Linked DNA regions of Homo sapiens: region 1 is linked to region 2. Evidence: fine-mapped expression QTL. Tissue or cell type: hypothalamus. Region 2 holds a variant in brackets; the other region holds the start of a gene. All regions are shown on one strand. Distances are between the middles of the regions.

Region 1 (8,173 bases), 95 kb before region 2:
CAAGTCTTTACACAAATGGCACATCATTAGAGAGGTCTTCCCTAACGATTCTATTTAAAATTGTAACCCCCTCCATACCTGGGCACCCTCCCATTCCCTTTTCCTGTTTTACTTTTCTCCATACTATAAGCATTTTACTTATTTCTTTTGTTGATTGCCTGTCTTTCTTTTTCTTTCCTTCCCTCCCTCCCTCCTTCCCTTCCTTCCTTCCTTCTGTAGAGATGAGGTTTCACCATGTGGCCAGGTTGGTCCTGAGCTTAAGTGGTCCTCGCACCTCAGCCTGGCAAACTGCTGGGATTACAGGTGTGGGCCATCACGCCTGGCCTTACAGTAAATTCTTGATAAACAACCCAGCAACTGCCTCTTTCCTTTAAAAATTCACTTGTAGCTTCTACTGATCTGAGTATACCCAGGGCAACTTGAATCTACAATTGCAATCCTCAAACTTGGCCCAGATAAACTCTACTTATATTAATTTTGCCTCATCTTCCTTTTCGGTTATTTCATGCATGTTTCACTTTGTTCAACCTTTAATAGCTCAAACCAGAGTCTAAAGACAAAAAAAGTTACTGCACGATAGTAATTTTCATGTAGCTATTTTCATCTAGCTTGTATTTTTTTTTTTTTTTTTTTTTTACTATTTTTTGACTGACTTCGACTATTTTCACCTAGCTAGGATTTTTCAGAAGGGACATTCTTTAACTGTGTCTCACAATCCAATTTCCTCAGAGAAACTTCTTGGAGTTTCCCCAGCACAGCTGCTCATCATAGGCTTCATGGACAAAAGCCTCACTACTTATTAGAGTATCTTCTTCTGGGTCTTTTTATTTATGGCAGGTCTAATTTCTTGATGCTGCTGCACTAGTTCTAGAAGTCAAAGAAACAAAGTCAAAAGAGTTGTTTCTTGAGATAGAAGCTGAGATGGAGGTATGTATGGTTAGAAAGGGCTACTTAACCCCATCAAAGATTATTGTTATTGGAATTATGCCCTATCTCAATTGCCTATTTAACAAAGCAAATAATCTAGAATGGGCAAGACTTAAGACAATTATGATTGGTTACTAAGTGTTCACTTAACTTCCAAACTGGCATATCTTCTGAGTAGATGGATTCAGCACAACTTCAATTCTATGCTCCTGGGTTGCAATCCTCAAACTTGGACCAAATAAACTCTCTAGTTATATTAATTTTGCCTCAGCTTCTACCTTTTAGGTCAATAGTATTAAGCCTCTTCAAGTGGTCCTGAAGTATTAAGCCTCTTTAAGTGGTTACTGAAGCTGTATTCATCTTTTTTCTGTGTGTGTGTGTGTCATTTTGTATTGTTTCTGTTGCTATATCTTTGAATTTATTTACCTTTTTCTCTGCATTGCTTAATGCGCTAGCAATCCCATCCAAAGAAATTTTTATTTCAAATATTTTTCACCTCCATCCAGAAATTTGATTTTTCAAAAATCTTTCCAGTTTCTCTCCTATCATGTCTTCCTTTAAATCTTTGAGCATATTCATAACAGGTGTTTAAAATCCTTGTCTGTTAATTCCATCATTTTTATCATTTTGGGGTTTGTTTCTATGAACTTCGTGAGATATTTTCTTACCACTTGGTCTCTCTCTCTCTCTTTTGAGACAGAGTCTTACCCTGTCACCCAGGCTGGGTTGTGGTGGTGCAATCATAGGTCACTGCAGCCTCAAACTCCTGGGCTCAAGCAATCCTCCCGCCTCAGCATCCCCAAGTGCTGCGTGTCTTTCAATTTTTGACTGGATGTCTCACATTTTGAATTTAATGTTGTTGAATCCTGGATTTTACTGTAGTCTTTCAGAGAGTTTTAGAATTTGTTCTTACAGGTAATTAGGTTACTTACAGAGCAGTTTGATCCTTTCAGGGCTTGTTTTAAGGCTTTTGAAGAATCTACAGTAGTTTATGTTCTGGGTCCTGCAGTCTACGGTTATTATATCTCACTAAGGCATGACACTTTCGTAACCACCCAAAAGGTTCATCTTGCCTACTGCCTAGACAGAGTCGATTTATCAAGACAGGGGAATTGCAATAAAGAGCAATTCATGCAGAGCTGGCAGTGCAGGAGACCTGAGTTTTATTAATCAAATCAGTCTCCCTGAGCATTTGGGGATCAGAGTTTTTAAGGATAATTGGGTGGGTGAGAAGCCAGTGAGATGGGAGTGGTGACTGGTTGGGTAGGAGATGAAATCATAGGGAGTCGATGCTGTCCTCTTGCACTGAGTCAGTTCCTCCCGTGGGGGACACAAAATCAGATGAGCTAGTTTATCCAAGATCAGGTGAGTCAGTTTATCAATCTGGGAGGTGCCAGCTGATCCATCAAGTGCAGGGCCTGCAAAATATCTCAAGCACTGATCTTAGATTTTACAATAGTGATATTATCCCCAGGAGCAATTTGGAGAGGGTTAGAATCTTGTAGCCTTCAGCTGCATGAGTCCTAAATCATAATTTCTAATCTTTCGGCTAATTTACTAGTCCTACAAAAGCAGTCTAGTCTCAAGAAGAGGGTTTATTTTGAGAAAGGGCTATCACCTTTGTTTTAAACTATAAGCTATACACTAAGTTCCTCCCAGTGTTAGTTTGGCCTACGCCTAGGAATGAATAAGGATAGCCTGGAGGTTAAAAGCAAGATGGAGTTGGTTAGGTCTGATCTCTTTCACTGTCTCAATGATAATTTTGCAATGGCAGTTTCACATCTGAGGTTTCTATTGCGTGTTCCATGGTATTCAATAATCTCTTCACTCTGGTTGCTGGGAGCTCAAATGATTCCCAGTTCTGTGTGACCTCTCACCATTGTTTGGTGTACTGCTCCCCAGTAATTGTTCTTTCCTGGCCTTGTGGAGTTTCACGTTTTTTATTCAGTTAAAGATTCAAGGTACTCCTAAGCAGATTTCTGAAGCTCTTTTTCCATGTAATTCCCTCCTCTCCAGAATTCTGCCCTACAAATTCCAACCGACTTGGCCTACCCCAATTTCGTCAACTCCAATCTCTGTCTTTTCAACCCAGGAGATCCTAGGTTTCCATATGATTTCCTTTCATCGCACCACAGACTGGAAATCGCCTCTGGGCAAAAGGGCAGGATGATATACGGCTCCTTTTATTTCTTTTCTCTCAGGTAAAACAGTCCACAGCTGTCCGTTGTCCAATGTCTGAATAGGTGTCTCCTATATTTTGTTCCGTTTTCTAATTGTTTATAGTGGGACACTAAGTCCCGACCCATTTTCTTTTCTTGCCCAGAGTGGAAGTTTTAGGAAACTCCTTATGGAAAATGTGAATTGTTTTATTATTTTTTATGGTCGAAAACATCTTTCTCTATGATATCTTCCCACTCACCCTACTTTTTTCCTTCTCAGGAAACACTGACGGGAACACACGTGCCGGTGCTACCCTCCAGTGACTGGACTAGATCCTTGCGCAACTTCAACCCGCGCTAGCTCCGCCTACGGCCGGCCACGCCCCGTCTTCTCACCGGCGCGCCTCCCTCTTGTTCGTCCTCCCTCCCCCTGTGGACTGCGGCGCTGGCGTTCCGCGCACGCCGGCTCACTGCGCCTGCCCGGCGTGTGGACGCCACACGCTCCCGGAAGTGGGAGGTGGCCGCTGGAGTTTGTGTGGCCGCCGCCGCGGGAACGCGAGCCCGGTAATTTTTCAACGGAGAAAGGCGAGGCTTTCGGGCTCTGCAGAGTGAGAGTTAGCAAGTGTCCGGCTCCAGCAACTCTCCTCTGGCGTGACAGCCGGCATGGAGGATCCACAGAGTAAAGAGCCTGCCGGCGAGGCCGTGGCTCTCGCGCTGCTGGAGTCGCCGCGGCCGGAGGGCGGGGAGGAGCCGCCGCGTCCCAGTCCCGAGGTGAGGAGTCGACCCGCGCCTGGCTGTTGGCGCCAGCTGCCCCGTCCCCAAAGCGCCCTCGGCACCCCTTTCTTCTCAGGTGTCCCGCAGAAGGTGCAGCTGTGCGCCCTTGGACCCCAGCCTCTTCCTCGGTGCCCAGCTCCCTGGCTTTATCCTCGGGTGGGTGTCTTGGAGCCCCCTCAGGGCCGAATCACTCTCTGGGAGGGAGGAAATCGTCAAGACCAGTTCTGTCTACAGTGGGTTAACAGGTTCTAAGAGGGAGTTTTGCTTTAAACTTAATTCTGTGTTCACGGTTGCTGTTGTCACTCCATGTAGCCGTTATGGGTAGTTTGCAAGGCTTTATGTTTTTAAAATCTCACCATATACGCTAGGTATGTCACTTCATGCCTGTTTTTAAAAAAAGAAAAAATTTAAAAAGCACTCACCAGCATCCCTGTCTCTGTACCTGTTAAGTGGAGCTTCGTCTTAGCTGCTTTTGCTCATTAACTGGTGTCTCATATAACCATAGTATAAGATTGAATGAATCATTTTGACATCTCATCGGTTGAACTTAGTTACAGTGGCAAAGTTGTAGAACAGTCTTAAAACTTATTTAACGAATGTTAATTGTTGACTAGCGCTGCGGATTGTAAGTGATTGAATACTAAAATTGATCTTTTCCTAATAATAAACATGTTGAACACTTCGTAAAGCTTCATAAAGTGCGTATTTGCAAGAGGCCTCCTAACTCTTGCTCCTTCCGTCCACAGTCAGTTTCCATCTGGCAGCTAGAATGAGCTTTTCAATAACATGAATTTGGCTTATTCCCCTCCTGAGTCACTTCCATTTGCTGCTCTGCGGGGTCGGGTGCCTGCCTCCCTTGGTAATTGCATCTCACACAGTTTTTTCCCTTTTGTTCCCAGTGCCCCTCGCTGCCTTGTGTTCTTTGACATTGGAAAGAAGGTCTCGTTAAGGATCTCTGTATGTTCCTTTTGCCCTGTGTGCACTTCCTTTGGATCCTTGCAATTATCTTTCTCCTTCTAAGGTTGTTATTTCAAAGAGTACTTGCACATCCCTTCTCTTGTAAAGAACCACTCTTCCACCTGCCTCCCTCTTCAGCCTGAGATACGTTGTCAATCTCATCCTGTAAGTGGGTTTTAAAATAAATTTCGAAGTTTATTTTTAGTAAAAGAAGTGTGTTTGAATATGCTTCTTTATATTTGAAAGTCTTGACACTTTTACAGCTACTTAAGGCCTAGGTCTCTGTTCCAAATTGGCTTTAGTGACGGTAGTAATTGTTAAAAACTTACTGTTGCATGCTCTTTATAGTGATACTTTTTTTTTTTTTTTTTTTTTTTTTTACAAAAAGCCGGTCGTAGTTGCCCTCTCCCGTAGTCCCAGCTACTGGGGAGGCTCAGTGGGGAGGATCACCTGAGCCCATGGGTGGAGGCTGCAGTGAGCTGTGATCGTGCCACTGCACTCCAACCTGGGTGACAGAGTGAGACCCTGTCTCAAAAAATAATAGTAATGATACTTTTTTTTTTTTTTTTTTGGAGACGGAGTTTCGTTCTTGTTGCCCAGTCTGGAGTGCAATGGCATGGTCTCAGCTTACTGCAACCTCCCGCCTCCCGGATTCAAGTGATTCTCGTGCCTCAGCCTCCCTAGTAGCTGGGATTACAGGAACCCACCACCACGCTTGGCTAGTTTTTGTATTTTTAGTAGAGATGGGGTTTCACCATGTTGGCCATGCTGGTCTGGAACTCCTGACCTCAGGTGATCCGCCCACCTCGGCCTCCCAAAGTGCTGGGATTACAGGCAATGAGCCACTGCGCCTGGCCATGATACAGTGTTTTTCAATCTGGGCCAAAGTTTTTTGTTGAATTCAGGTGGTAAATTTCCATTATCTCTAATGCTAGTTGTCTTTGTAAACTAGTAGAAGCTATTGCATATTTATATTTTTAATAAGTAGGTTCAGATTTCATCAGAACTCTCCTTTTGGAAGAACGTCAATCAAGAAAAATTCTAAGTTTTTTTTCAGTGTGCAGATGCAGAGGTTTTCCTTTTCTTTTTTTAAAAGGTAGTACCTAGATTTTTGGCAGCAGAATAATAGCATTTCCAGAACATGTTTTCAAAATGTTCTCTATACAGAAAAAGTTTTATTTGACAAGCAGTTACTTTGTAGCTTACTGTTAAAATGTGTTTTCTTTTTTCTTGCAACAACAGATTGTGTTCCTTTAAAAAAATGCTAAAAATCAAGCTCCGGTACCCTTCCCAATAAGAAGAGGACAGCAATTATAGAATACCTGTCTTTTTGTAAAAGAAAATTTGTAACTCATCTTTAAGTTCAACAACAGTTTTTTTATGTTTTTTTTTTTTTTTTTTGAGAGGGAGTCTCTCTCTGTTGCCCAGGCTGGAGTGCAGCGGCTCAGTCTCGGCTCGCTGCAAGCTCCGCCTCACGGGTTCACGCCATTCTCCTGCCTCAGCCTCCTGAGTAGCTGGGACTACAGGCGCCCGCCCGGCTAATTTTTTGTATTTTTAGTAGAGACGGGGTTTCACCGTGGTCTCTATCTCCTGACCTCGTTATCCGCCCGCCTCGGCCTCCCAAAGTGCTGGGATTACAGGCGTGAGCCAACGCGCCCGGCCTCAACGACAGTTTTAAAGTAGTTTGCCACAAGATAGTAAACCTCTGTTTGGTATAGAAGATTTTCATGGCCACATCCCATAATGTAAAAGCTTCTCTTATTTGAGATAATATAAACCATACATCCACTTAATTGAATACGTGAATATTGCAAAATGTTACAGTTCTGTGATGGTGAATGTTTCTCTCCATATTGTGGAATCTATCACTTTTCTCATTATATGGTCCGTATTATATGTGACATGTGATAGGTGGATGTAGTTACTGGTACGGATGCTGATGCAAATGTAAGTATGTATTTCGTAAACTAATTTTGTCTTTCTGCAGATTAACAATACAAGTAGGGTTTTTAGTATTTTCTTTCTGCTCCTTGGCAGATTGATTTGAGCATCCTTCTTTGTGAACCATTAGTGTAGATTTGAAATTTGGGAGGAGACACTGCTTTCTGAGGATTGGACCTCGGCTGTCTCTAGAACTTCACTGAAGGAAGAGAACTAGAGCTGGACCTAGGAAAGGAAGCAAATTTTTCTTTATGGAAGTCATAATTTATAGCATCTATAGAAGAGGCCTAAGTGTTACTTGTGAATAATTTTTCTAGCTACAGTTTAGGATGAGAATTAACCAGTGAATCAGAAAGAGGATTTATCCAAAGAGAAAATCTGCTTAAATTAACTGAGACATCTGTTTTGGTAGACAAACTGTTACTTAATGTTGACCTAAATTTTAACCTGAAATTTACTAAATGATGACTAAAGATGAAGTTTCAAATTCAATGTAAATTTAAAGTCAAAAGATAATTTTTTGTAAAATTCTGGTCAAGCAGAGCAATATCTATTGTAAATCTAATATATTGTTGAAAGTGAATCATTGGTCAACTAGCAATACTTTTTTTTTCCTTAACATTGTTAACAAGGAACCTCAGTGTGGCTGTTCTTTAATTTATGGACAGTTCACACATTGGAACTGCTGACCTCTTCCTCAAAGGAAATGGGTGAGTCACTCTTGAGTACTCTGGCACCTTACCTAGCATTACATTTCCAGTAAATGTGTGTTGCATTAAATTGAGAGCTTAGAGTAAGAAATGGTTCCTGAACCATCAGGATCAGTTCTGAGTTAGGGACTGTGGCCTCTCTGTGATTATCCTTCCTTGATCTATAATTACAGTTTACGTGAGGACAATGTGGTACATTATAACTAAGGTAACAAGCTTTAATAGGGATAATTAGTACTAAATATTTTTCAAAATTATGGAACATAGCTAATATTTGTGATATTGCATGTGGAAAATAACTTACAAATGAATCTTTGGAACTTAACATATTAGTAATTTGAGACTGCCTGTGGAGAAAATAGAATTGAGTCATGTTTTTTCTTAACAGATTTTTATTTATGAAAAAATTCATAATTCTATAGTTCTTCTGGTTAGTGGACCTAAGTACAACTTTTGGAAAATGTAAGTTTTGAAATTAAATACATTTCCTTCTTTGAGTACTAGGAAGCTGTAAATTAGATTTGCGGTCCATTTTGTTTTTATGTTGGGCAATTTTTGTTAACTTTGTGAAATGAAGTCAGGTTAAAAAATTATCAGAAGTTATTACACATGTATAATGTAAAAGTTCATTTAAAAATGGGTTCATTTGTAAATATTAGCATATTGTTTGTGAAGGGCTTGTTGTATAGCCTGTGATATTAATAG
Region 2 (8,185 bases):
TAGTAATTATCAGCAATTTAAAAGCTTTGCTGGAGAATATTATCAAATACAAATAGCAGACAAGGCATTGAGGACAATTGAAACATTAGCTACGGTGTTTCTTGACAAGCTCCAATTTCTAAAATAATAGCATATTACAATATGAGCATGAGAATCGTCGTGGACTCTCAGGACAAATCCAAGCAACCAGGAGAGTCTCCTCAAGGGGCAGAGGATCATGCCCTCATTCTCAGTGCAGACTTGGGCAGCATTCCAAAAGCCTCTCCAAGAGTTAAGCATTGATATTTGCCTCGCAATCCCTCTCTCTGCAATTGCTGCAAGGGCTGAGTCTCAAACTTTTCAATCCACGTACCTCTTTGATGAGGCAAAAACCCTCCCCACCATCTGCCCCACCTGTTTGCTCTGCGCACAGGGTAGAGAGATTGGCTCTGTTCCCTCTCCTTCTCTGTGTCCTGTGTGTTGATGGATGATGAGTTTCCAGCAACCCAACTGCTCAGAACAAAGACCACATCTCCTTTTCTCTCTTCTCTGTGTGCTAGTTGGGGAACATAAATGTGTTTCTCATTATTTGGTCTGTTTTACAATGTGAGTTCCTGCTGGAGTTCACTGCTTTGGGGATTACAAGGTATTTCATCTCCTGTAGGACGGGCCCTTCCCTAACACTTAACAATGGCAGCCTGTCTGAAGACAGGAAACCCTGAAGTGTTTTGCTAAATTTAAAGACTCAGACAAATATTAAGATTGGAGAGATTTTTCCTATTTTTTAAAAAAACGTAATCCTTTTATGTAGCTAGTATGTATATGTGTTACGGGGGTTGGGAGAGTCCTGAAATGGGTGGTAGGAAGGATCCAAAGATAATTAATTCTCAGCTTAAAAACCATTATGGCACAAAGGAAAGAGAATGGGCTTTGGAGCCAGAAGGTGGGATATGAATCCTGCCGTTTTCCTACTGGCAGTTGCAACAGCTTTACTTCCATCAGCTGCAAGATGAGGATTGTATAACCTGCTTTCTTAGGACTGGTGTGAAGACTAAATGAGATGCTGCATGAGAGCATCTGGCACGCTGTAGGGCTTCATGAGTGCTACCTCTTTGAAAACACTTTTAAATTTTAGATTCAGGGAGTACATGTGCAGGTTTGTTACATGGGTGTATTGGGTGATGCTGGGGTTCTGTTGAATAGATTGGGTTTGTATTAAACCCATCACCCAAATAGTGAACATGGTACCCAGTAGATATCTTTTCAGTCCTTCCCGTTCTCTCTACCTCTCCCTACTTGGAGTCCGTAGAGGGCTATCTCTTAATAAAACCTAATTCTGTAATGGTAAGGAGTTCAGCATTGCAAATTCAAATTGGCTACAGGATGCCCAAATCCATGGGACAGGTCTTTTGTTGTTGTTGTTTGTTTGTTTGTTTGTTTGTTTGTTTTTGAGATGGGGTCTCACTCTGAAACCCAGGCTGGAGTGCAGTAGCCTGATAATGGTTTACTGCAGCCTCAACTTCCTGGGCTCAAGCCTCCCTGCTTCAGGTGATCCTCCCACCTTAGACTCCTGAGTAGCTGGGACTACAGGCACATGCCACCATGCCGAGCTAATTTTTGTGTTTTTTGTAGAAATGGGGTTTCACCATGTTGCCCACGCTGGCCTTGAACTCCTGGGCTCAAGACATCTGCTTGCCTTGGAATCCCAAACTGTTAGGATTACACTGCGCTCGGCCAGGACAGATGTTTATATAATAGAAGTTTGCTCTGTGTTTAAGGATCATCTGTAGGGGTGGGTCGGGGGGCAAGGCACTTGGCCTTACTAGCCTCATTAAAGAAATGTTTCGGGAGCCCTCGCCGCCTAGCTGCAGGGCACTGGGTCATCTGGAATATAGAAATCATAATAATCCCCCTTGCGTCATAGGCTGACCTGAGGATCAAATGAGATAATGTCTGTGAAAGTACTTGATAAGCCTGAAGCACTGTCTAAATGTATTGCTGAGGGCCTGAGGTAGAGAGGACGTTTACTTTGGGCCATTCATGAGGTTCAAGTACAAACTCTCCATTGCATGGCATTCAGTGCAGAGCAAACACATTCTATTTGGCTTTAGCCTTGAATGAAAAGTCAACAGTGCCTTTTCAGTTGCTTTGCTTCCTCTCTTCTCCTTTCAAAACAAAGCCAGGTCCTCTAAGGGTTTCCTGCTGAGTTTATAAAGAGGTGCTGGATTACAAATCCAGCCCCGGCTCCCAGGATCTTGGAGGCTGGGGAAGAGTATGGCCTCAAAACAAGGGGTGTCTGAGGACACCTACCCTTGGTTCTTCATCAAGGGATTGGCCTTCTCTCAAGCCTTGAACCAGGGCCAAGTACCCCAGAAGCAATGCTTTCTTTCCCATGGAGGTAGTCACAGGAGAGGCACCATGAAAGAACTTGGACAACGTCACTGCTGGACTGTGAAAGGGCTCACTGTGAGGATGATCAGGAGGGAGGAGCGGTGGCTTGGGGCTGACCTCGGAAGTGTGGTCCAGCTGCCTGATGTTGATTGTACATTTCAGGCATGCTTTGAGAAGAGGCCTAAGTGATCCAAAGTCCCGTTCTATGAAATGAAATGTCCATCTCTTTACTTCTATTGCCATCTTTTTTTTTTTTTTTTTTTTTTTTTTCTTTTCAGACGGGATCTCACTCTGTCACCCAGGCTGGAATTGCATGATCATGGCTCACTGCAGCCTCAGACTTTTGGGCTCAAGCAATGCTCCCGCCTCAGCCTCCCAAAATGCTGGATTACAGGCGTGAGTCACTGTGCCCGGCCTCTGTTCCCACTTTCTGTCTGACTTTCTCCTGACATTCTTCTTTTCTTCAATCTCACGCACCCATCCTGCAGATCCTAAATATTGCCTTTATGATGGGAGTCAGGGCTCTTCACTCTCTAGACGAAGCCACCTTTCCTACCCAGGTCCCAAACGAACCCATTCCCTCTCTGCCTTTACTCTTCTAGCTCTCCCGCTTCCTCTGGAAGTCCCCCTTTCTTCTCTCTTCCCATTTACACCCCCTCCATCCTTCAGGACCCTTTGTGTGTGCCTCCCCATGAAGCCTTTTGTGACTATTCAATCCCCAGCGCTTTCTCCCCGCTTTCATATGCTACATATTTTTTATATTTTTTGTATTACTCTTTGGCTTTTCATGATTTTCTGTTTTTTATTCACTCATTAACAGTCGAGTGTTTTTGTGCTAGGCATTGCATTTGGTACTGGGGACCCAGTGGTAAACCAAACAAACAGGGCCTCTCTTCAGAAGTAATTTATCATTTAGGGCCAGGTGCGGTGGCTCACGCCTGTAATCCCAACACTTTGGGAGGCTGAGGCAGGTGGATCTCCTGAGTATCACAGGCTGAGTTCGAGACCAGCCTGGCCAACATGGTAAAAACCGGTCTCCACTAAAAATACAAAAATTAGCCAGACACGGTGGCGTGCGCCTGTAGTCCCAGCTACGCAGGAGGCTGAGGCTGGAGAATCACTTGAACCAGGGCGGCAGAAGTTGTAGTGAGCCAAGATTGTGCCACTGCACTCCAGCCTAGGTGACAGAATGACACTCTGTCAAAAAAAAAAAAAAAAAAGAGTAATTTATCATTTAGTAGGCAGTTAAGAGACTTTTTTAAAAGAAAGAAAAGAAGAAAGAAGAAAAGACATAAACAAGCACTATATACATCATAAAGAATGTGGATTTTATTCTGAAAGCAATAAAAGCCATTGCAGAAGTTTAAATTTTTGTTAATTAAAAAAAAATGCTTAACAACCCAAATGCCCGTCAATCAAATAGTGGATAAAGAAATTATGGTATATGTATATACACCATGGAATACTACTCAGTCATAAAAAGAAATGCAATAATGGCATTTGCAGCAACCTGAGTGGAATTGGAGACCATTATTCTAAGTGAAGTAACTCAGGAATGGAAAACCAAACATCGCATGTTCTCACTCCTAAGTGGGAGCTAAGCTATGAGGATGCAAAGACATGAGAATGATACAGTGGGCCGGGCACAGTGGCTCACACCTGTAATTCCAGCACTTTGGGAGGCTGGGGTGGGCTGATCACTTGAGGTCAGGAGTATGAGACCAGCCTGGCAAAAATGGTGAAACCCTGTCTCTACTAAAAATACAAATAATTGGCCGAGCGCAGTGGCTCACGCCTGTAATCCCAGCACTTTGGGAGGCTGAGGCGGGTGGATCACCTGAGGTCAGGAGTTTGAGACCAGCCTGGCCAACATGGTGAAACCCCATCTCTACTAAAAATACAAAAAATTAGTTGGGTGTGGTAGCTTGAGCTGTAATCTCAGCTACTTGGGAGGCCGAAGCAAGAATCGCTTGAACCCGGGACGCAGAGGTTGCAGTGAGCCGAAATGGCGCCTTTGCACTCCAGCCTGGGTGACAGAATAAGTGAGACTCCATCTCAACAACAATAACAAAAAGAAGGATACAGTGGGCTTTGGGGACTCCAGGCAATGGTTGGGAGGGAGGTGAGGGATAAAAAGACTACACCTTGGGTACAGTGTACACTGCTTGGGCAATGGGTGCACCAAAATCACAGAAGTCACCACAAAAGACCTTATTCATGTAACCAAATACCACCTGTTCCCCAAAAACCTATTGAAATAAAAAAAAAATTTTTAATAAAGAAATAGAAAAAAATGTTAAACAGCCTTATTGAGGTATAATTGACTTACAGCAAATTGCACATATTTCAAATATACAATTTGGTAAGTTTTTTGTTTGTTTGTTTGTTTCAGACAGGCTCTCACTGTCACTCAGACTGGAGTGCAGTGGTGCAAGCTCGGCTCACTGCAACCTCTGCCTCCCAAGCTCAAA[T/C]GATTCTCCTGCCTCAGCTTCCCGAGTAGCTGGGATTATAGGCGCCCCCCCACCACATCCGGCTAATTTTTGTATTTTTAGTAGAGACAGGGTTTCACCATTTTGGCCAGGCTGGTCTCGAACTCCTGACCTCAAATGATCCACCTGCCTCAGCCTCTCAAAGTGCTGGGATTACAGGCATGAGCCACCACACCCGGCCACAATTTGGTAAGTTTTAACATCTGTATATACCCATAAAACCATCACCAGGATATGATGAGCATATCCATCCAACCAACAAAGAGTTCTTGTGCTCTCTTCTTCCTTCTCCCCAAGTAAGATTTGAACTCCAATGCTACTGATTAGTTCAACTTTTTTCAGAATTTTGTATAAATCATCATACAGGGCCAGGCACAGTGGCTCATGCCTGTAATCCCAGCACTTAGGGAGCCAGGAGGTTTGCTTGAGCCCAGGAGTTCAAGACCAGCCTGGACAATATAGTGAGACTTTGTTTCTACAAAAAATAAAAAATTAGCCAGGTGTGGTGGTGCATGCCTGTGATCCCAACTACTCAGGAGACTGAGTTGGAAGAATCAGTTGAGCCTGGGAGGTCAAGGCAGCAGTGAGCTGTGACGGTATCATTGCAATCCAGCCTGGGCAATAGAGCGGGACACTCTCTCTCTCAAAAAAAAAAAAAAAAAGAAAGAAACAGAAACCCCAACCAAATAAATAAATAAGCATACACTATATACTCTTTTTCACGTGGCTTTTGTTCTCTTTACCACTGTAGAGCATTCCATTGTATGATACAGCAATTTATTTATCCTTTTACCTATCAATGGACCTTTGGGGTTGTTTCTACTTTTTGGTTATTACGAATAATGCCGCAGTCTTTGCTAACGGTATTGGTATTATGGACACATGCTTTCATTTCTTTTGGGCAGACAACTGTGAGTGGAATTGCTGAGTCATGTGGCAAACTACCAGTTCTGTTGAACCTCAGGGCCATCATTCTGTTCATGTCAGCTCGTTGTAGAACCACATCGATGAAGACCAAGATGGTAAAGATGAAAAATTGTAGCTAACATTTACTGCACATTTACTACAAGCCAAGCATTGCACTATGAAGTTTAAGTGCATTATTCATTAACCCCTTCAATAAAATTTGTAATTTTCATTTCAGAAGCAAATATTCGTGTTGTACAAATTTCTGATTGCCCTAAATGTAGAGAGACTGATGGGGAAAGTATGATGGGTTTGATTTTTATATCAAATCATCAGGCATGGAGAAATATCTTTTAGAAGTGTTAAAATAAATGTTCCTACTGTATATTTAAAATACAAAAAATGATAATAATAATAATAACAATTCCTCTGAAATAGTTACCGTGAATACCCTCATTTAAAATGAGGAAGCTAAGCCTTTTCAAAGTTAAGTAACTTGCCTAAGGTCTCTTAACAACTAGCGAAAAGGATAGAACTCAAACCTAGGTCTTTCTGACCCTGCAGTTTGTGTTTCTATCCACGGTGTAAGTGAATGAGTCAATGTATGCTAAAGTCAAGACTCTTATCTTCTGTTTTGCTTTCTTTCAGCATGGACAGAAGCACATTAACCTAGTCACAGGTGCCAGTGAGGGGCATTCTGATTAGCTGAGATGTTGGTTTCATTTTGCTTTACTGTTAGTCTAAGAATCTAAGGAAAATATAATGTGCAAGATACATTTGGCAATCATTTTATAGATTTTGTTAAAACTCCATAGGAATCCTTTATAAAGTTGTCTAATCTAAAATATATGACTATATTTAAGATGCATTTGTTTGCTTGGTTTAGATGGTAGTTTTTTTAAAGGGCCTCATCCATCAAAACACAATAAATGGGAATTGACTGTAGAATCCTGAGAATTTGTAATATTTGGAGGCATAATGACATAGCAGAAGAATATGAGTTTGCAGGTAAAAGAGACTTGGATTGAATATTCGGTCTGATGTTTCACAGTGGAAAAGCTATTGAAACCTCATTTTCTCGTTGGTAGAATGAAGATAGTAATGCCTATTTAAAGGGTGGTTGTAAGGATTAAAGAAGATGACAGACCCGTTACCCGGTGACACATTAGATTCTTGGTGAGGGTCAGGTCCTAGTTCATTTCTAGTCCCCCCCGCAACCTTTTTTTTTTTTTTTTTTTAAAGGGATCACACCTTTTTATCCTGGCTTAAAATCTAAATCCCTTCCTGCTAGGAGTTGGTGATCCTTCCCAAACTGTATGCAAAATTTAGTATGTTTGTACATGTTCATTTTGCGAGAAAATATCCCTGTGTATTAGTTCCTTTTCAAACTGTTATAAAGAACTACCTGAGACTGGGTAGTTTATGAAGAAAAGAGGTTTAATTGACTCACGGTTCCGCATGGCTGGGGTAGCCTCAGGAAACTTACATTTTTGGCAAAAGGAGAAGGGGAAGTGAGGCAGACGGCAAGATGCAGGGGAAGTGCCACACTTTTAAACCATCAGATCTCGTGAGAACTCACTTACTATCAGGAGAACAGCCTAGGGGAAACCACCCCCTTGATCCAATCACCTCCCACCAGGCCCCTCCCCATGGGGATTACAATTCGAGATGAGATTTGGGTGGGGACACAGAGCAAAATCATATCACCCTGGCTTCCATCAGATTTCAAAGAAATCCATGATTCAAAGGCAATTTAGAACCACTGGGAGATTGTTTTTCATTCATTCAACAGTATTTACTGAATATCCACTATGGGTCAAGCGTTTTGCTCAGATAAACCATGTCCCTGACTTTCAGGAAGGTACAGCCTAGACTGGTGAATAAAAGTATGACCTGTTTTGTGAATCTGTGTGTTATCACGCTATTATTAGGTTGGTGCAAAAGTAATTGCGGCTTTTGCCATTGAAAGTAATTACTTTTGCACCAACTTCATGCTTACTTGTATGGAGATGACACGTCAGAGAGAAAGGAGAGTACATGAAACAAAAAGCAGAAGAATCCAGACAGTTGAGTGGACATGAAAAAGAGGCCCTGTAAGCAAGGAACAGGCATCAAGAAAATAAACCTTCCTGACTTTGACTGACAGCCAGCTGCTATATTAAGGTGTAGGATTGTGTAGGTTCTGCCCCACGGAAGTGCCGGCCAAGGGTTGAGTGGAGAGGGTTGGGGTGGGGAGGTGACGAGATGCAGCTTGAGCTCCCTTCACCAAGCTGGGGGCCCTGAAGACTCTGCCTACCTGGATAGAGTAACTTTTTCTAATATGCTTCAAGGTGCTATAAGAGGCTGCCAGCCCAGTGTATTGCTGCTACACAGAGAGTCAGATTTTCCTTTAGGAGCTGAGCTGTTAAACTTGAAAGTAG

Which allele goes with the higher level. Alleles are on the strand shown, and positions count from the first base shown. SD is a standard deviation of normalised expression in the study named.
For the expression in hypothalamus of the gene that starts at base 3,583 in region 1, C is the low allele of the variant in region 2 and T is the other (moderate effect, 0.63 SD a copy in GTEx).

What was found. PIP is the estimated chance that this variant, and not a neighbour inherited with it, causes the effect.
Region 1: ERI1 starts here. The variant in region 2 is fine-mapped to the expression of ERI1 in hypothalamus (GTEx, PIP 0.97).

What each region holds. Positions count from the first base shown.
Region 1 is chr8:8,999,315-9,007,487 of GRCh38, forward strand. ERI1 (exoribonuclease 1) reads left to right here and starts at 3,583. Exons shown (of 7, transcript NM_153332.4): 1 at 3,583-3,857. The coding sequence starts at 3,750. It overlaps LOC105379227 (a long non-coding RNA gene), which reads right to left and starts at 3,428. Exons shown (of 3, transcript XR_002956680.2): 1 at 3,347-3,428.
Region 2 is chr8:9,094,095-9,102,279 of GRCh38, forward strand. It overlaps a transcript of ERI1 not described here. Among named protein-coding and RNA genes, the nearest start is that of SNORD3I, 40 kb to the left of the region's middle. The variant T/C (reference allele first, on the strand shown) is at 4,842.